4 separate regions of the Homo sapiens genome follow, and regions 2, 3 and 4 are each linked to region 1. Evidence: fine-mapped expression QTL. A gene starts in region 1. Each other region holds a variant in brackets. All regions are shown on one strand. Distances are from middle to middle.

Region 1 (5,155 bases):
TTTTATGTTTTGTCGTTGTTGTTATTTGTTTTTGAGACAGGGTCTTGCTCTGTTGCCCAGACTGGAGTGCAATGGCACAATCTCGGCTCACTGCAATCTCCGCCTCCTGAGTTTAAGCGATTCTTCTGCCTCAGCATCCTGAGTAGCTGGGATTACAGGTGCCCACCAGCACGCCTAGCTAACTTTTTTGTATTTTTAGTAGAGACAGGGTTTTGCCACGTTGGCCAGGCTGGTCTCGAACTCCTGGCCTCAACTGACCCGCCCGCCCCAGCCTCCCAAAGTGCTGGGATTACAGGCATGAGCCACAGCACCAGGTCACTTATTTTACTTAATATTACTCAAGTCTTATACTCCATTTCTATGCACACGTCTCAATTTATGTTCCTCAATTACCTTATCTCCTAATAAAGTAAAAGTATTTACATTACCTGCAGATATAAAACTAACAGTAAAGAATGGGTACCTAGTCCCACCTACTCTAGGGAATTAGTTCATACCAAGCCTTGTACCTTGGTTGCATGCAAATTTAATGCAAAAAAAAGGTCAAGGGCTATTGGGCTTGAAAGGGTTAAGGCAGCTTCCAAAATTGAATCCTAGTGATGCTCAGAGAAACTGCTGAAAAGTTATAGATAGATATACACACGCACACCTGTGTGTTCATATGCAAACATACATGAGCCCACACACCCAGAGTACTTTCCTAAGGATGAAACTCAGAGTAATTACAGAAAAGAGAAATGCCACTTAGACCACAGAAACTAACAACATGAAGAAGCCTACGGATTTGGGGAGCCTGGAGAGACTTAAGTCATAGAACAGCATTTAAATATATTTGTCTGCTTACAATTTCCATTGCAAATGTGATTAGTTTGCTTGAATAAATAGGAATATGATGTGTTGGCCATGTTTTCCTCTTGAGGGTTATCACAGAGTTTTGATTAAGGACAAATGTTTGAAATGTTAGGTATATTTAAGTTCACTGCACTTAAAATGAGCTAAGAAGTTGTATAGGCTTGATTAGAGGGCTGCCTTCGTGAACTTAAATTAAAAGCAATAAATTCCAAATGATTCAAGTGATTGGGACTAAATATGGTATTCTGCCAGAGAAGTTGAAATGCAGTCCAAAGAGACTGAAATGGTGTCCAGGTTTCAAGAAATGGTGAAAGAGGAAAGGTCAAGTGTTGGAGTTGCCTTTCCTCTGGGTTAGTGAATGATTCACATTACACAGAACCCCTTTCAAGTACAACTTCACAGGAGTGACAGGCTCCCAGGACAATCTGTTTCATCGTTCCCAAAAAGAAGCCTCTCAAATGCTCCGAGGCGGGTATCTAAGTGTTGTCAGATGGAGAGAGGGAGGGGGAAGATGGGAATGATGGGAAAGCGGGGAGGGGGAGAGTCCCTGGACTTTTTATTCACAAAGGCGCAGACCAAGTCTCCTAGGCAGTTTCCAAAACGGAAGTCAAAGTAACTTCCCCACCCGCGGGAGGGCGGAGCCCTTGAAACGTAATAGGATCAGGCTTCAGCCCGGGCTCTGGCCCCTGGAAGAAGCCGGAGTCAACAACCAGCGGGGTCAGGAGCAGGAGCGCGCTGGGAAGGTAGAGAGGACCCCCAGCGCTTGCCGGCCCAGGGTGCACCAGGCCCCAGTCGCGCCCGCTCCTCCTCGTCGGCCCTGGCTCAGCCCCGTCAGGCACCAACTTCCCTCCCCGGCCAAGTGGGAGTGTCCGGCCCACAAAGTTTCCGCTGCGAGGTCGGGCCTCGGTCTCTGCACCGACCGCCTGTGCTGCCCGGGAGGAGTGGCCCCCTCCCTCCAGCAGCCGCAAGGTGGAACGGCTGCCCGGCACCCCATTTTGCTCCGCCTGTGGCACCAACCCAGACACGTGAGCGCCCGAGCCTCTCGCACCCCCAGGCTGATCCGGCAGGCGCGCTCCCCCCGGCCTCGGGCCCGCGGTTACCTTGGCGGCCGCCATGATTCGCCCCGGTTGCGGGCGACTGCGGGACCCACTGACTGGCTGGCTGGCGTTTGGGACCCGGGCGGCTCACTTCTAGTCCCGGCGGCGGCGGCGGTGGGGGCGGCGATACGGCCAGGCAGCGTGCGTTCCTGGCCTGCCTCCCCACGCCCTCCCGCCGGCGCGGGTCATGTGGATGCTGCCCGCCCATTGGCTGGGCCCAGCCTTGGCCGCCGGGGTGCGCGTGATCCAGCGGCCTCTGCCCTGCAGCCGGGGAGGGCTCAGATCCTGGGGCAGTGGCTGGACAGGGACACGTGACCCCGCTGCGCTGTCCAGCAGCGGCGGCCTCTGCGGCGTGGGCAGAGGTAACTTGGCCGTGTGCAAGCCCGTCACCTGAGGGCAGGTGGCCCCACCAGGGAAGCTGCTGGCTTCTGCTGATACCAGGGGCTACTGGGCCCTCGGACCGATGGGAGGGGCAAGTAACGACAGATGGTGCACGGCCTGGGGAAGTTGAGAACTCCACTAGGACACATACTTTGCTGGATATTTTTTCCCCTGTGCGTTCCCTTTGAAGGAGCTCCACTTTACACTGGATCCAAAAAGACTTTGATCCAAAAGCATTGACTTAGAAGGCGAGATTGCAAATATTGCTGGCACGCCTACTTTTAGATCAAAATCGGTGAACTCTTAAGAACCCAACAAGTGAATGTAGTGCAGAACGTATATTCATGAAACTACTCCATTTCAGCCCTACCTGTTAAAACGGTAGAAGTCAAAAGGCCCGGGTCAAAAGACTTCCCCCAAATAGGCCCTACTAAAATAAATAAACAAGCATTTTAATGAAAATTTGCTTATATGACCTCCAGGCCTTACTCCTCTTCATCAGGATTTCATTCTTCTGTCCTTGTAATCAAAATTTATAAGACAGTGGTGATCAGGGAAAAGGACTTTTAATGTATTGTAGGTTGTGGATGTAATATGGCAGCAAAAAGCACTTATTACTAATCAGTTTAATTCATTAACGTTGATTGAGTGCCTTCCTACTATGTGCTAGGCACTGTGCTTGGTGCTGGAAACCCCGAAATGACTTAAGAACTGGTTCCAACCGTTAAACAGCTTCAGGGCTATTGGGAAAGAGACACATAAATGTTTACTTCAGTATAACCTGTTAAGGCAGCAGACTGTTCCCAGGGCTCAATAAGAATACTGAGAATTCTCATGCCACTATGAAGAAATACCTGAGACTGGGTAATTTATAAACCAAAAGATTTAATTGACTCAGTTTCGCATGGTTTGGGAGACCTCAGGAAACTTACAGTTGTGGTGGAAGGCACCTCTTTACAGGGTTGCAGGAGAGAGAATGAGTGCCAAGCAAAGGGGGGAAAGCCCCTTGTAAAACCATCAGATCTCATAAGAACTCACTATCACAAGAACAGCATGGGAGTAACCGCCCCCATGATTCCGTTGTCTCTCACCGGGTCCTTCCCATGACATGTGGGGATTATGGGAACTACAATTTAAGATGAGATTTGGGTAGTGACACGGTCAAACCATATCAAAAGGTAACTTGATCTTGAGCTATGGGATTGGGGCAGTGGCACGACTAGTGGAAGGAGTCTGGCCCAGCAGGTAGGGGCTGTGTCATGGTGGGTCTTAGGCGCCTTGCTGAAGGGTATGCACCTTAACTGAAGGGTTTTAAGTCAGGAAGCAGCATGACTAGGTTTTCGATATAGAAAGATCTCTCTATGGTCTGAATGTGCCCCCCAAAATTGATGTGTTGGATACAATCTCTAATGCATCAGTGTTGGAAGGTTGGGTCCTTGGGGAGGTATTTTCATCACAAGGGCTCTGCCCTCATAAATGGATTAATGCTGCCATAAAAAGAGGTTTGGGGAGTGGGTTCACTCTCTCTTGCTCTTCTGCTCTTTTGCCATATAAGAACATAGCATTCCTCACCTTTGAAGGACACAGCATTCAAAGAGCCATCTTGGAAGCAGAGAAACCAGGCCGTAACCTGCCAGCACTTTGATCTTGGACTTCCTAGCGTCTAGAACTGTGAGAAATACATTTCCGTCCTGTTCTTCTAGTCTCAGGAATTCCCTTACAGCAACACAAAATGGACTAAAACACTGCTTGCAGTATGGAGGATGGGTTCCAACTGAACTACCAGGATGTCCAGACGAGACAGGCTGGGGATGGGCTAGGACTAGAGGAATACATAGAAGGTAAAATTAGTGGGGTTGGGACGGAAAAAGGGAGTTGTGCCATATTGCACATAGACTTGTGGTATGGGTGTCTGGAAAAACACCTGAGATTGGTAATTCAAGAGGAGTGTTTTGAGGTGTGTGAGTCTGTCTGTAAGGAGAATGTATGTCCAACATACAAATTATGTTGTAGAAGCTTAAGAAAGAAGCATTACAGAAAGAAGCAACTATTTAACCTACTCTCAAAAGGTTCAACAAAGCCCAGAAGACTTGACCATGTTCATAGGCAGAGAAGAAAGATCAGCAAAAAGTAAAAAAAAAAAAAAGACAAAAGGAAAACCAGGAGAATTGTTAGAGAAAATTATGACAAGGGGACAAGTCTGAAGCTCCTGTGGAGGATGGCCCCAGCTGCCACAAGGGGAGTGTAAAAGGAGGTGAGAAAATACAACCTCATGTAAAGAACAAAATTACATCATGTACCACGTATTTATTTTTAAGGGCATCATTAAAGCTCTCCTTTTATAATGTAAATGAAACAAAAAATTTTTAATGTAATAAAATATACATAAAATGTACCATCTTGACCATTTTGAAATGTACAGTTTAGTAGTGAAATACTTTCACATTGTTGTGCAGCCAATCTCCAGAACTCTTTTCATCTTGCAAAGCTGAAACTCTGTACTCATTAAACAACCACTCCATCTCCCAACCCCCTGACAACCACCATTCTACTTTGCTCCTATAAATCTGACTACTCTAGGTACCTAATAAATGGAATCATATGGTATTTGTGTTTTGTAGCATAATGTCTTCAACCTTCATACATGTTATATAGCATGTGTCAGAATTTCCTTCCTCTTCAAGGTTGAACAATATTCCATTAATTTTTTTAATAGAAAAAGTCCATTATACTTCTTCTTGACATTTTTGAAAATTCAGAAAATCATAGTAATGGCCAAAAAATCACTGATAATCCTATCAATAGAGTTAGCCATTGTTAACATT
Region 2 (5,155 bases), 43 kb before region 1:
TCAACAGTATATAATCATGAGAGTGATATGTGAAAAAGTTGAAAATATCCAAACGATAAAATATCAGATATGATCATGTACGCTTCATAATGACCATTATCTCCCAACAGTTCAAAGAAAAAACAAGTCAAGTTTTATGTTTATAAACTTAACTGGGAGCAATGTTTTCCCACAGGGACACTTGGCAATATCTGATGGCAATTAAGATTGTCATAACATGTGAGGAAGGGTGCTACTGGCTCCAGCAGGTAGAGGCCAGGGATGTTGCTAGACATCCAACAATACACAGGATGACTCCCTGCAACAGACAGTTCTCCAGCCCAAAGTGTGGGCAGTGTCCAGGTTCAGAAACCCTGGTTTATAGAAATTTGGAAAGACAAACTATGTCTTGTTTTTTAGCAAAGGCACATAGCTTTTTAAAAAAAAAAAAAAAGTGGAATTACGAAGTCATGGAGGCAAACAACCTAATTCCTTTGCCCCATTCCTGCTTTAAGAGCATCAATGATACAAGAAAGGATGGCAAACAAGCTAAGCTGGACAGCAAACTACTAAGTGCGTGTCATCTTGGGCAATCTTATGGAGGGAGGCAGTAAATGCTGCTCTAGTTACTGTCCTCTCCATTCTAAGGCATTACCATGCAGAAATGCTCAGTAAGAATTAGGTGGCAAACAACGCTTCCTCACAGTGTTCTCCTAGGTCTGGCCTTTAATGTGATACACTCCAGCCTGGATAAGAGAGAGCCCATTAATTTCTGTTGCATGGAGCCCTAAGGGCAGAAATGCTGAGAAACGACATGGGATCATGTGGTGTCCTTATGAAGCAGGAGACGGCCTCTTGATCCTGGGGACAAAGCAGTGGTTTGGGGACTGAGGAGGCAAGGATAGTGCATCTACAAGAACAAGCCTAGCTGGGTGATAAGAACCACACTGGTAGCCATAGTGATGGAGGGTGCGCAGTGAAGTGCCAGGGCAGTGTCTCCCCTCTCTCTCTAATCTGAGTTAAACCTGATTAAAACTGTTTTTAAAAGTCACTTGTTATTTCTACATTTTAATTCCAATGCAGACTAAGGCTTTGCTCAGATACTCAGTAGTAATATGCTTTGGCATCCCACGGGTCTGGACTGTGCCTCTTACCACTTGAATGGCCTCAGGTAAGTAACTAAAGCTTTTGGTACCTCTGGTTCCTCATTTGCAAAATGAATAGAATAACATTACAGCTTCATAAGACTGATGCTAGAAATATTTAAATGAGATACTCATGTCATATACTTAGCACAACGCCCTATACACAATAAGTACTTTATATTAAATAAATGTTCTATAGTATTGTCTTACAGTTAACATTTTTTTTAGCACACTACAAGGGAAAGGCTCAAAGATGCCCCAGTGATCCTACTATTCTTCAGTTAGCATTTAATTCGGCTTTTTGGACATGTAAAGAATTATATTTTGATTTTCCTAACTGAGCCAAAACAAGATGAAAATATAAAGGAAATATCACTGCTAATTACAGCAATCTTATGACTTAGTAATTATACCTAAGTTTGCCCCTGATAGTGAATAATTTATTTTACTATACAATTTAACTTTTCTCCTACCAGTAGACATTTCCAGTTTTTTGTATTTTTAAATAAAGCTAAGGTAGTAAGCTTTGAATATAACATTTGTCCAAATTCCTGGCAATTTTCAAAGGCTAGGCTCCCAGAAGAGAAATTGTTGAGTCAAAGGAGAGGAACTTCTGGGCTCTTGGTACTTATTATCACACTGCTCTCCGGAAAAGATTGTACCAATTTACACTCCCACCAACAGTGTGTGAACATGCCCTTTACTCACTTTGGTCTATTATATTTGTTGCAAATATTTTTCCAGTTTGATATTTTTATATAATTGAGTGTATAGAATTTTTTTCTCCTTTGAAATTTCTTCCATTACTTTTCTAAGCTTAGACACTAGCTGTATTAGTCTGTTCTTACACTGCTAATAAAGACATACCTGCGACTGGGTAATTTATAAATAAAAAGAGGTTTAATGGACTCACAGTTCCACATGGCTGGGAGGCCTCACAATCATGGTGGAAGGCGAATGAGGAGCAAAGTCACATCTTAACATGGCGGTAGGCAAGAGAGCTTGTGCAGGGGAACTCCCATTTATAAAACCATCAGATCTCATGAGACTTATTCACTACTACGAGAACAGTATGAGGGAAACCACCCCCATGACTCAATGATCTCCACCTGGCTCCACCCTTTAAATGTGGGGATTATTACAATTTAAGGTGAAATTTGGGTGGGGACACAGCCAAGCCATATCACCAGTCTTTCTTCATTTCAAGACTAAATATCAGAGAGTTTATCTGAGTTTTTTTAAAGTAGGTTTATCTTTTACCTTTAAGTTTTAGTACATTAGTACTTTATCTTTGTGTGTGATCTAAGGTAAGAATCCCCCAACTTTAATTTTTCCACT[T/G]AATCTCTTGGTTGTCCCACGAACACAAAGCAAATCATTCTCTCTTCCAGGTCTTTAGGATGCCATGTTTATCACATACTTAATTATCATATGGTCACCAGGGAAAGGCGTGACAAAATGGCTCCATCTGCAGTACCAGTTCTGATGAACTGGCAAAGGCTTCCTAGGGCCAACATGTATTCTGAGGCTGACCTACGCTCCATGGGAGAATGCTGGGATCGAATGACAGCTCTTGTCATCACTGCAGTCAGAGATGTTTCAGGACCATCCTTTTCAATTGTCTCGTCTACTCTTGCAAGATTACATGCTATAACTAGAGGGAAAGTTCTGTTAGGACAGAATTTTTTTTCTCTCATTTTTACTGCTGTGTCCTCAAATTCCCAGACTAGTACCTGGTAGATAGTGAAACATGTTCAAATAAATATTTTTTTAAAAGAATGAAAGGTTTAAAAAAGACATTGAATTATTTTACACTTGGAAATTTTTTTGGCCATGATCACTCCTTGATTTTCCACAAATGACCTTTAGAATCATTATCAAGTTGCTGCTCCCTAAAAAAATTCCACTGAAATGCAAAATAAAACAATGCAAGGCAGGGCACACTGACTCATGCCTGTCATCCCAGCACTTTGGGAAGCCAAGGTGGGCAGATCGCTTGAGCCCAGGAGTTCAAGACCAGCCTGGGCAAGATGGCGGAACTCCATCTCTACAAAAAATAAAAAATTAACCAGGTAGGGTAACGTGCACCTGTAGTCCCAGCTACTTGGGAGACTGAGGCAGGAGAATCGCTTGAGCACAAAAGATTGAGGCTGCAGTGAGCCATGTTTGCATCACTATACTCCAGCCTGGGCAACAAAGTGAGACCCTGTCTCAAAACATAAAACAAAAAGCCTACAATGCAATACCATGCCATACCCCCAAGATAACGAAAAAGAATAATAAGTGATGGCAAAAATGTGGAGCAAATGTTACTCTCACACACTGATGGTATGAGAATAAAGGAGTAAACCATTTTAGAAAAATGCTGGGCAGTATCTGCTATAGCTGAACATACAACCACAAGCCCACCAATTTCAATCAGAAGTATATCACCAACAGAAGTGTGCATATACACAAAAACTATGTGAAAATGCCCACAGCGGCATTATTTGTAGTATCCAAAAAACTAAAAATAACACAAATGTCAACCAATAGTAGGATACATTAATGGCTTGTGGTGAATTCACACAATGGAATACAACACAGCAATGAGAAAAAACTAACTCCAGCTGGGCACGGCATCTCACATCTGTAATCCCAGCACTTTGGGAAGCCAAGGCAGGTGGATCACCTAAGGTCAGGCGCTTGAGACCAGCCTGGCCAACATGGTGAAACCCCGTCTGTACTAAAAATACAAAAATTACCCAGGCATGGTGGCACAGGCCTGTAATCCCAGCTACTCAAGAGGCTGAGGCAGGAGAATCGCTTGAACCCGGGAGGCAGAAGTTGCAGTGAGCTGAGACCGCCCCATTGCACTCCAGCCTGGGCAACAAGTGCAAAACTCCATCTCAAAAAAAAAAAAAAAAAAGAATAAACTAACTCCAACTACATATGACAACAGACGAATCCTAAGGGTAAAAGAAAAGAAACATAAGAAAACCTAGCGTATAATTCCATTCACGCAAAGTGAAATAAACAGGCAAAACTTACATACAGTTAGTTTTAACATACAGTGACCAGAATTCAGACAACTGGTTACCCTTGGTGGGTGCTGATCAGAAGGGGCATCAGAGGGCCTCTGGGATGCTCGTTACATGGGCCTACTCACTTTCTGAGTATTCATGGCTGTACATTTGTGATGTATGCATTCAATTTATATTTCAACAGTTTACATTTTAGAAGTCTTTGAGAGATATTATCAGCTTCATTTTTTTAGATGCAATAAAGAAATCATTTCTTAAATATAAGAGCATGTTAATCTGGGCACAGAAATAGTTTTCTCCAGTTTTTAAAACAAGCTCATCACCACGGCTGGGCAGTCTGCTCTGTGATTTAAGTAAACATGTCAAAGGTTGCTCCTTAGGATTGATGGACAGAGGCAGACCATAATAAAAATATGTATGAGGGTAGTGATAAATGCAGCTCTGCTCTCCCTGCAGCAGTGAGCAGAGGGTCCCTATAGGGGGAACGGACTATATCCTTATATCCACCACATCTTTAAAATGTCATTAATCCTTCTTTGGGAATATTTTTCACTAGTGAGCTGAAGCCTTCCTCCCTTGCAATTTTCAGGAGTTTTATTATGATTAAACATACACCTGCAAAATGGGAAGAGTTTTAGGATTCCTCATGCAACCTTGTATAATACTTATTGTCATCACCAAGAAATACCACCATACTCAGTGAAGATGACAGCAAAGGAAACCAGAAGGAACCTATCACTACAAATGCCCATACCCCGAGGGCAGGGGTCCTATCTGGCCTGCTCACCATCAGTCACAGTAAATTGATAAAGGTTTGTAAGCTGTGAATGAGCCAGGGTAGAACCATAATCATCCAGCTACCCATTTTGTCATGAATCACTCATATCCTGGGACTGAAGGACAAATCCCCTACATTGTTTTCCAACCACTGAGAAGGTGCACACAACAGGTCACTGCATCTGCCCATCCTTTACTTTGATTCCCTGTTATAGGGATGGAACAAAATATAAT
Region 3 (5,155 bases), 170 kb before region 1:
ACTTGCAAAACTCAGGTTAGAAAGAAAAAGAGTAAAAAAGTATTTCTGGGAGGAGGATCTCACAAATACTGTGTCAAATGTCAAAACAAGTCATTTCAAGTTTACTCTAGCAATATGGTAAGTTGTTACATTATGGGGACCAGTTATATCCATTCAGGATTAACTGGGAATAGGAAAAAAGCAATTGACTGTCTTAATATTATGTGTCTATGGGATAAAATTTGCAGGAACAATATCATACATAAAAGTCAAAAATGCTTCAAATTACAAAGCTTGGGATAAAAATGAAGACAATGTATTCTGCAAAACCATGCTAACAGATGACCTAAAAAGTGGGTTAAATGGAGCTCAAGATGCTGATTCAAAATTCATGAATAATTTTAATATTTCTTGATATGTGTTTATAGAAACAAAGCAGTATTAATTTTATATAATGTGACTGTATACATTTCTGTGTAAATAAATGAAACTATCTTAAGTAGACATTTTATTTTTCTCCCATATCCCTAAAGGTTTACTTAGTCAAGCTAGCGTAAAATGTTTTTTTAAAAAATTCTTCATTGAAAACTTGTGTATACATTATGTTTGATAAAGCCTTATAGGTTGGCATATAGGCAGACAGTTCTAGTAAATTCCATTATAACTTTTTGGTAGAGCAGTATGAATAAAAAATTTCAAGAATCATCTAGAAGTTTGGTTTTGTAATCATTCTGAAAAAACATTTTCTAAATGAAAAATGATTAAGATTTATAATAATTAAGACAAGGCATACATATATAGAGAAAACATGGATCGGACCATATGCATAGGATCAGAAAATAAATTATGATACAGGTTTCTCCTTGAACTGAACTCAGCGTATCAATAACAAATCCAAATAAAATTCTAGCCAGTGTTGCTGCAAAGAGCTGCACTGAACAACTCTAGAGGGCACGATTCCTATCATAGTCATCCTAGATTTGTGTATTGATGAGGATAGTTTTTTGGCAGATGGCAGGAAGGGGCACCTCCTTCTAATTGGCATGAAGGTGCCTCTGCAGCTTGGGTAGAACATCTTCTCCAGGTGTAGAAATGCAAAAAAAAATGGATTTCATGTTGAAGAATAGTTTCTGCATTAGGAGATGAGAAAGTAATCAAATAAATGACTAAAAAAAAAAAAAAGTTACCTTGTAGATCCCAAAAAACCCCAGGTCCCGCACGACAGACAGAGCACTGACTCGAGGACCAGTGGTGATTTCTCCTGCCACTTGCAAACGGATCTTGACGATTTCTAAAGGATTTGTGAAAATCACCTGGGAGCCTCCAGCCTAAAAAGAACAAAAAAGATTTAGGATCAAAGCAAAGAAATGGTAAGGTGGGTCAGGAAGAGATGAATGATTATTCTCAAGGATAAAAATATTCTATCCTCAAGAGAATGTAGTTTCAGCCCTTGTCCCATCAATCAAAACGGTTAGGGATTACAAGTATGAATCAAAATACAGTTACTGCCTAGGAAGAAGCCCTATGTCCTTAATGTGGAGGCTGAAGGAGGGCAAAGACCAGAGATTTCTGTTGACCTCCCCAAGTCCTCACACTGAAATTACAAATGCTCCTTGAAGCACAAACAACTGCCACCACAGGACTCAAAGCCAAGGGCACAAAGGCAGTAATAAAATGAAAAGCATTCGTATCCAAATGAGGAGACACAGAACGTATCCAAATGAGGAGACACAGAACGTATCCAAATGAGGAGACACAGAACAGAACGGGGACTAGGAGGACAAAGGCTCTTGAATGATGAATTTCATGATTCTGGCAACGATTCAAAAACTGCCAGCGAACACGTAAACTTAGATGAAAGTTATTATTTTTTTCTCTTAGAAACTCAAGTCAATCATCAAATCTCATTTTATGGAGTTACATATTCTTAAAATTTTTGTTTATGTATTACTTGTGTACAGAATTGCTCTTTTCATATGAGATAAGTGGTATATGAAAGTAGCAAAAATATGCACTAAGTCAATTACCAACCAAACTTTGAACATCGTGTGTTATTTCATTCCAGCAATGGCTAGATGCCTCACCTCCAAGATCATCAGTGAAATCTTTAAAGTACACTATAAGGGAAATTTTAAGCTAGCTATTTTGAAGCTAAGCCTATATTTATCACAAGCAATTACATTCTTTCTTACTGTACTTCAACTTGTTATTCCTTGTCACACATATATGAAATTTTTATATCATCCAAACTATACTGTACTAATTAGAACTAGCTACAAGGATGGCCTTTGAAGTATTATTTATAAAAGCTGGAAAGAAAAATTAGAAACAACATAAATATCTAATGGTAAGGGATGGGTTAAATGAACTTGAGTATGTTCATGCATGGAGATACTATGCAGTCAACAGTGAAAAATGTTCAATATATACTTTTAAGTAAAAATGCTCATATGTTTAAAATACTGGTACACATTTCCCCCTGCCATCCCCTACCACCATGTGGAAGAAATACACCAAAGTGGTGCTTCTGAAGTGGTGGGATTACAAGTATCTTTCTTTTCCTTTTTTTTTTTTGATGTATTTGAAATTTTTTCTATATAGATCATGTGTGACTTCCATAAAGAAAAATAAACACCTATACACAGTTTACCTAATATGTGTAATGTTAATGAAAAGAATCAAAGAAAGATGTTCGTTCATTAACTCTCTAAATCAAATTGTTTTTCCATTTTTACCAACTTGATACCTTAATCAAGTCACTCTTGTTCTTCCTTAAGTGCAAATGAATTTTTTGTTTGGGTTGGGGGACAACACAAAATAC[C/A]AACCTGGGTTGGATTCACTGAAAGGCCCAAGAAAGGGCCTTAGTCTAGGAAGTAGAGTGTGAGATGATACACCCACAGGCTGGTGCATTCTGGTCCACACAAAGACGTGCTGCTCCCCGCCCTACTGCTCAGAACAGCTCTGTTTTGCTCAGATGCTGCTGCTGCAACCTGCAGGTCCATGAGAAGAACAACTCCCTGGTTGTTTACAGCCCGTGAGTGTTTTGTGAATTTGCACCTACATTTCCCATGTGATATGGACTCAGCTATTTACGGTTGGCAGAATGATGAGTTGAAACACACCTAACCAAGTAACCATGTGAGAGGCACGGTAAGGATTTTCTCTGTGTTTCTGAACCAGAACTCTTCATACGAAAATCTTATGAATAGTTAGAAAAATGAATAGAAATTTAAAATGTAAAGATTGTTTTATGGGGGTAGAATTGCTGAGAAAGATTCACCAGGTTGGAATTAGCCTGAAGCCTGATTTTTTGAAGCTCAAAAGAGGGTAAGACCATCTCTATCCAGGGTAAAATGCAAAGTAATCAGAGAAACCAGTCTTCTTGGAAGAGAGAAGAGGCATACAATGCATATTCATCCAAGCACTGCCAACAGCAGGGAAGGAGGCAGTTGAGTGTCCCACATGAAGGCAGAGCTTCGGTCTCCCTATTTGTCAAACCATCTCACTTACTATGAAGATAAAAAGAGATGGAGAATGTACAGGAGCCAGCACAGTGCTCAAGACAGAGCCTTTACTCCAGTTGGTTTCTTTCCCTTTTTCTCCTACGCTGATGTTTTCCTCCATAGATGCATGTTACAATCACTTGCAGACCTTTTTAAAATATAGTGACCTCTGGACTTCAGTCCTGACAGTTTAATAAGAATTTCTGCATCTGTCCTTGCTAAAATTTTCCTATGAGATTACCATGTGCAGTGAGGCTGAGAATCCCTGCACTACACCATCTGCACTACACCATCTCTAGAATCTCTGTCAATTCTGAGAATCAGCTTAACTGGCTTCTTGAATGCCACAGTTTCTAATCCCAGTCTTCCATATCATTTCACGAATAACTTTTATTTGTTTTACATCTGATCTCACAACAAACTCTTTCTACATATCCAAGTGGTGCTGTTATGAAAGGGTACAATTCTTAGGTACGGAATTGTCTTATTATCTCTTATCTTTACTAACACTGGTAAAAGTTGCTAGCATTATATACAATAAAACAAGAACTTACACTCAACTCCCTGACTCCAAGCCAACCAACAGATAACAATTCTTTTAAAGCAGAGTTAGTTATCACTAGGGATGATGAGGAGTCAAATCCACTTCAGAGAGCTGCAGGAGGCAGATGCACGGGGAAGAAAGAATGTAGTGATATCAAGAAAACATAATGATGTACCCATTATCTGTGGTGGCCTCTGAAAGAAAGAACCTACAGACTCAAAGTGGCACATTGTAAAGGTGCTGAAGATGAAACAGGCCCTTTGGAGTCGAACTGGAAGGAAATGAGAGACTCCAAGGCACCAAGAGAAGATGCTTATCATCAGATGCATGGTGTCTGGGTCTCTCCACGACTTGATCACTGAGCAGCACACTGCGTGCCGCTCTTCCAATTCCTGGTCTATTATGCATTCACAGTACCATACCCATGGTTCCTCTTTTGCAGAGATCAAAGATAGCTGAATCGGCAGACAATGGACAGGAACACCTATTGTGCACAATGTCTTTGCGTCCCTCATCACTTGAAAGCTCTGGCTGTGTGAAGATACTGTTTTTTTTGTGTGTGTGCAATTTTGTCACAAATCATTTCCCTATGACTTACTGGAGTCTGTGGCAAGTAGGACATGGGAAAATATTCCATACTGAACTGGCTCAGTGTGGCATATTATATTTACAGCGGTAACACTGACTTTTCTACATGTTTCCTGGTATACTCTTTGTTATTGAAATCTTAGTTATCATCTAGTATCTGGATCCATCTAAGAGAGAAAGAGAAATGCATACAATTATTATAGACTCACTTCTGCTATTTGATTTTTCATTCACCAAATATTTATAAGCAATTCAAAGTTTGTCCTAGAACTGCAAGGACACAAGATGCTTTATTCTCATTCTCAAGAAGCTTGAAGTAGTAAGGGTAGAAGTCATGAATATTCATTAAACATCTATTATGGGGTATTAAGGTGTTGCTTTGCATATATTACATATTTTCAGTCCACTCAAGAGGTACTTTTTGCAGATTTTACATAAGAGGAAATTGAAGCACAGAAAGATTAAAGCAACTGTTATGGGCTGAACTGTGTTCTACCAAAAGTCATAGTTGAAGTCCTAACTCTCAAATATTTCAGAATGT
Region 4 (5,155 bases), 500 kb before region 1:
TAGGCTTTCAGCTTCATGTGAATTTCAGATTAGAATTCAGGGACAAAGGGACAGATTTCTTCAATGTTCTCTCTTCAGCTTGGATACTGGGCCTCCATATAGTTACTATTCAGTTTCTTATTGACAGAAAGCTTTGGTTAAATTTAGATACTTGTTTTTGGGCTACAATAATTCGTTGTGGGCAACTTGTCCTGTCTGCATGTAGTTACTACTTTTTTTTTAGTGACTTCAGGAAAGAAAAATGTGTTCTGGGGCCACATGGACATAATACTCAAAGGAAATCCTTAGGACCTTCACCTTTATCCACAGTCAGATTCTGCAGGATTCTTTGGAACTATGTAGGCCTCAAAGGACTTGACCCATTTGGGTGAAAGCATCATCATCTTCTAAGATGCTCTGATAAATCAGAGGCTAAAGGGAAGTCATAAAGGAAGTATTAGTAAAGGTGAAAAGTGTAATAAATAATACAAGATTATGGGGGAAATTTAATAAGACTATTAAAATTTTGCTTATACAAAAAAATTTTAAAGTATCATTATATAAAGAGAGATTGACAGGATGCTACCAGCCAATTCGACTTTGGGGAGACTGAAGTCGCTAATTCAAGGTTGGTTAAAAGTCAGTCTCTTTGTAAATTAAAATAAGATTTACACTATAGGGTTTTCTCTTTATGCAGCACAATAAGTTCAAAATTTTTAATATCATTGTCTTCAGGCAAAGTGTGCTCTATGTACCCATATGGTTATAGTAACACAGTAAGCATCTATTTTAGGAAAGGGTAGCTGAGCTTTCTTCTAGAGAAACTGCTTGCTTGACAGCAGGACTTTTGTGTAAGATTTTGGGAAAACATGCTCTTGTTCTATGATGGGAAGTCCTACATTTCTTATTGAATCCAGCTCAGATGGACTTCCCATGTGGCTTAGTGTGGCTCGCTCTGGAGCTCCATATTAGGGCTCAGGTGTTAGCCAACAGATGGAAAATTCTCCCACCATAAATTAAGAAAAATGCTTTTTAAAAAGAGCCTGATATAAGTATGTATTTCACTGTTCCACATTTATTTCTGACATCAGAAAATCTTTATCATCATTGCCAGTCCTAAGTAAGGAAAAAATTGAGGCCAGGAAATAAAACATTAACTCATTATTTGAATACCATCCTTTCTTAATTAACATCACTTTAATGAATGTGACAGATGAGTGATATGATGGATTTTAAAATGTCCTTATTATTTCATGTATTACTTTTGGAAACGGCATTTTAAAAATTAGATATTTAGCGATGGCATTGACTAGATATTTTCTGTTTGGCACTATGCTTACATAATCCCAAACTGTTTGCACTGGCTGATTAATCACTAGTGATTTGTTTGACAGAGAAGACATGTGGAACAAGAGCTCAGAGAAACTGTGCGACTCAGGAAATCTCTGTATTCTGTCCTTGAGCTCTCTCTCCATCTTAGAGAGAAAAGGAAGAACATGAAAATTTGAGTTCCAGTGCAGTTGCTTCAGGGACTAATTAAAGTTACTAAATTCACTTGGTAGAGAAGATGGCTGGACCGCTTTTGTTTTTCACCACAAATCAGCAATATGTTGAGCATTTTAAAAATAATAATATTCATAGAGACAGGGTCTCGCTATGTTACCCAGGCTGGTCTTGAACTCCTGGTCTCAAGTGATCCTCCTGCCTCGGCCTCCCAAAGCTCTGGGATTACCGGCATGGGCCATCATGGCCGGCCAGTGGTCAGCATTTTTATTAGATAAGATATGCTTTCCTTCTTCAGTATGGAAGTGAGTCTGAAAACTCTCCTGCGGCCATGTAGTGACATCACGCTGAGTAAGACTGAGTTTTCCATAAATGCTTTGATGGATATTAAGGGATTTAGGGAGACATGCCCTGATTTATTATTTCATTTTTTAATAAAAACGTAAAAACTGTTTCTTTTGGAATCAACTTGCCCTCACACGTCACACCCATCTACAGAAAAGCCAGGTAAAGAATATTCATTTGTTCATTCATTCATCAAGTCATTCAGTAAACAATTGAGAATTTATTGTCTATCAGATACTATACTAGACTTTCAAGGAATATAAATATTCTTCTTACTTCTAAAGAGCAAGTAAATTGACACATTTAATTTGAATCTAAGGAAATGTTGCTGTGTAGTTACAGCTCTCAAATATGCATACTCAGAGAAGAGCTCAATGGTAATGAGGACTTTGGGGTTATTTTGCAGAAGATATATGGACGTCTGTGTGATTGCCTGGGGTTAGAGTAGAAAGGTGAGGGGAGAAGATAGAATCCTGGTTGGAGAATGCCTGTCTTTATTGGAATGGAAAGAGCAAGGGTACTGCCAAAAACACAGTGAGAGAGGGAGGAAAAGAAATAAGATTTTCAGGGCCAAGAAAACTAAAAGAAAGACTATGCCAAGAAGGAGCCAATAGTGACCAAAATCAGAGACAGCAAAGATAAGGAACAAGAACCGACCATGGGATTTGATGATTTGGAGGTGGTTGTCGTCATCATTATAATCATCATTATCATTTTTTGTTATTATTATTATTATTATTGACGCTGTTTTATTTTCATAGGCTGAGGTCCTGGGAGCAAAACTAGTCCAGGAGTAATTCTATTTTTTATGTTCCTGCCATATATTGGCATATTACTTCCCAAAGAACTTTACTAATTTAAATGCTACCAACAGTGTATGAGACTGCCTTAGCCACATTGAGTGTTA[G/A]CATTATAAATGAGAAATTTGTTAACTACTGCCTTCCAAATATTTATTGAACATCTCTTTCTTATAGCCAAAGACTAGAAAAGGTAAGAACAAAAACACTCTTTAGGAAATAATTCTAAGGTTTTCTGCTCTGAGGTCTAATAAGATGGAAAGAAGAATGGAAACCACCAACTTGTTGTTGGTAAAAGCTGAATGGGAAGAAATTGACCACTCATCAGAGTGCAAGGTATATGCAACACAGACATTATGTCTTTCACTCCTAAGTTACACTTTCAACAGATGGCCAAGGATATTTTAAAATTTTCACTTCTTTCTGTCTCATAAACTGAAACTGAGCAAATAAAATTGAGCCAATGAAAGGGGAATTTTATAAGAAATTAAAAAGTAATGAATTGGTACAAGGTTTAAAATATGAAATGAAATTCTGCTTGTCTCTTAGTTGGTTACGGCTAGTTTGAAGAATTTTGATGTTTGCCTATTCTTTTTTAAAAATATTGAAAAACAAATTGACCCACAAATTATAAATTAACTACTACATGGTAGGCATTTTTGTATAAGGTGCCAGAGGCTACAATGTTTTTGATATGTTCAAGGTTAAATAAGTGAGTATTTTCCATGTTGGGAAGCTTCTGTATTTTGAAATGAAGTTAGGAAATGTGACCTTAATTGGCATGTCCAAAACAGCCAATCCAACCCTGGGACCATAGAACCGTAACAGTGCCTGTTGGTCCAGAGTAGGTACAGAATTATTGGGTTACTTAGCTTCTGAACACATAATAGGGCTCCTATGAAACAGAGATCAGAGATCCCACCTAGACAGAACCTCAGAAAGTTAGCCTAAGAAATCAATTGAAACTAATCAGAGCAGCCAAATGCAACTCATAAAAATAAGCAAACAAACAACACCAGGATGGTTCCCCAGCGGGGAATACTGACGGAAATTTAACTGACATAGTTAAAGAAAGATTGTATCAAACAACAAAGGCTAGGTTGGTCATCCCAGGAATTCCAGAAAGGGGAGACTTGGGTAGCAGTGAGGATGATGTCTGGTCTTGGGGAAAGATAAGGTCATGGTGGGGGAGGGCAGGGGAAGCTGTCGTAGTTAAACATTCAGCATCACCTACTCTAGTCCCAAAGATACTGCTGGACATCTGGCTTCCCAGGAAGCTGGGCTTCAAGGAGAGAAGACTTTGTTAGGCTTATATATTTGTCTGCCTGGTTATTATTGTTCTCACAACAAATTGCTAAGTTGGCATCTAAAATATAGCAGTCTTATAAGACCTAGTGGACTACCTCAGCCACCTAAGTCCAATAAACTAAGCACTGAGGAAAATGAATTTAGGCCCAAATCCTATCCCCTCCTCCAAGACCAGGTCAAATGGAATCTCTAATCTTTTCAGTGGAATTGTGTCTCCCTGCTGTGACTTCCAAAGGATGATGAAACTGCAGTCCAATGCCTGGCTGGCTGGCACGGAGCAAACACTAAGTGAAGGGAAATTATAACAATCACCATTCTTAATCTGTCTTTCCTATGGCATTTATTAATATTTTCAGCTCATATTTATTCAAACTTTAAACTGTGCCAGTCTCTGAGCAAGTGATGAGAGCTACTTTCTTCCTTGTAGATGTTATCGGTATATTATTAGGCATAAATATTCATATGTCTCATTTCTTTTACCAAAATGGAAAAGTCTTAAGTGCAAGTTCCATGTCCCTCAGCATACATGTGGTACTGCCGGGTAGGGGAAGCTGTCATAGTTAAACATTCAGCATCACCTACTCTAGTCCCAAAGATACTGCTGGACATCTGGCTTCCCAGGAAGCGGGGCTTCAAGGAGAGAAGACTTTGTCAGGTTTACATATTTGTCTGCCTGGTTATTATTGTTCTCACAACAAATTGTTAAGTTGGCATCTAAAATATAACAGTCTTATAAGACCTAGTGGACTAACTCAGCCACCTAAGTCCAATAAACTAAGCACTGCGGAAAATGAATTTAGGCCCAAATCCTACCCCTCCTCCAAGACCAGGTCAAATGGAATATGGCAAGTTTTACTTTCAGATTTGTTCTACTAAACTATATATATATATATATATATATATATGTTTTGGTTTTTTGTTTTTTTTTTTTTTTTTGAGGCAGGGTCTTACTGTCACCCAGGCTGGAGTGCAGTGGCATGATCTCAGCTCACTGCAACCTCCACTTCCCAGGCTCAAGCTGTCCTCCCACCTCAGCCTCCTGAGTAGCTGCGACCACAGGCGAGCACCACCATACCCGGCTAATTTCTGTATTTTTTTGTAGATGCAGAGTTTCGTCGTGTCGCCCAGGCTGGTCTTGGAACCCGTGGGCTTCAGCAATCTGCCTGCCTTGGCCTTCCAAAGTGCTGGGCTTACAGGCATGAGTTACCGTGCCAGGCCTATTG

Direction of the effects. Positions count from the first base shown, and alleles are read on the strand shown. Sizes are in standard deviations (SD) of each study's normalised expression. Not every link is listed here.
In carriers of allele C in region 3, the expression in fibroblasts of the gene that starts at base 2,109 in region 1 tends to be higher than with A alone (small effect, 0.11 SD a copy in GTEx).

Evidence for each region. PIP is the estimated chance that this variant, and not a neighbour inherited with it, causes the effect.
Region 2: its variant is the best candidate, but not a certain one, in a credible set for the expression of SLC25A13 in whole blood (TOPMed, PIP 0.79).
Region 3: its variant is the best candidate, but not a certain one, in a credible set for the expression of SLC25A13 in fibroblasts (GTEx, PIP 0.85).
Region 4: its variant is the best candidate, but not a certain one, in a credible set for the expression of SLC25A13 in monocytes (Fairfax 2014, PIP 0.89).

What each region holds. Positions count from the first base shown.
Region 1 is chr7:96,319,990-96,325,144 of GRCh38, forward strand. It overlaps SLC25A13 (solute carrier family 25 member 13), which reads right to left and starts at 2,109. Exons shown (of 18, transcript NM_014251.3): 1 at 1,953-2,109. The coding sequence starts at 1,967. RefSeq lists a silencer at 1,905-2,244.
Region 2 is chr7:96,277,381-96,282,535 of GRCh38, forward strand. All of the region lies in intron 2 of SLC25A13 (solute carrier family 25 member 13), which reads right to left. Among named protein-coding and RNA genes, the nearest start is that of SLC25A13, 42 kb to the right of the region's middle. The variant T/G (reference allele first, on the strand shown) is at 2,463.
Region 3 is chr7:96,145,390-96,150,544 of GRCh38, forward strand. It overlaps SLC25A13 (solute carrier family 25 member 13), which reads right to left. Exons shown (of 18, transcript NM_014251.3): 14 at 1,167-1,307. Among named protein-coding and RNA genes, the nearest start is that of MIR591, 72 kb to the right of the region's middle. The variant C/A (reference allele first, on the strand shown) is at 2,801.
Region 4 is chr7:95,819,143-95,824,297 of GRCh38, forward strand. The region is part of intron 4 of DYNC1I1 (dynein cytoplasmic 1 intermediate chain 1); the gene reads left to right. Among named protein-coding and RNA genes, the nearest start is that of DYNC1I1, 49 kb to the left of the region's middle. The variant G/A (reference allele first, on the strand shown) is at 2,735.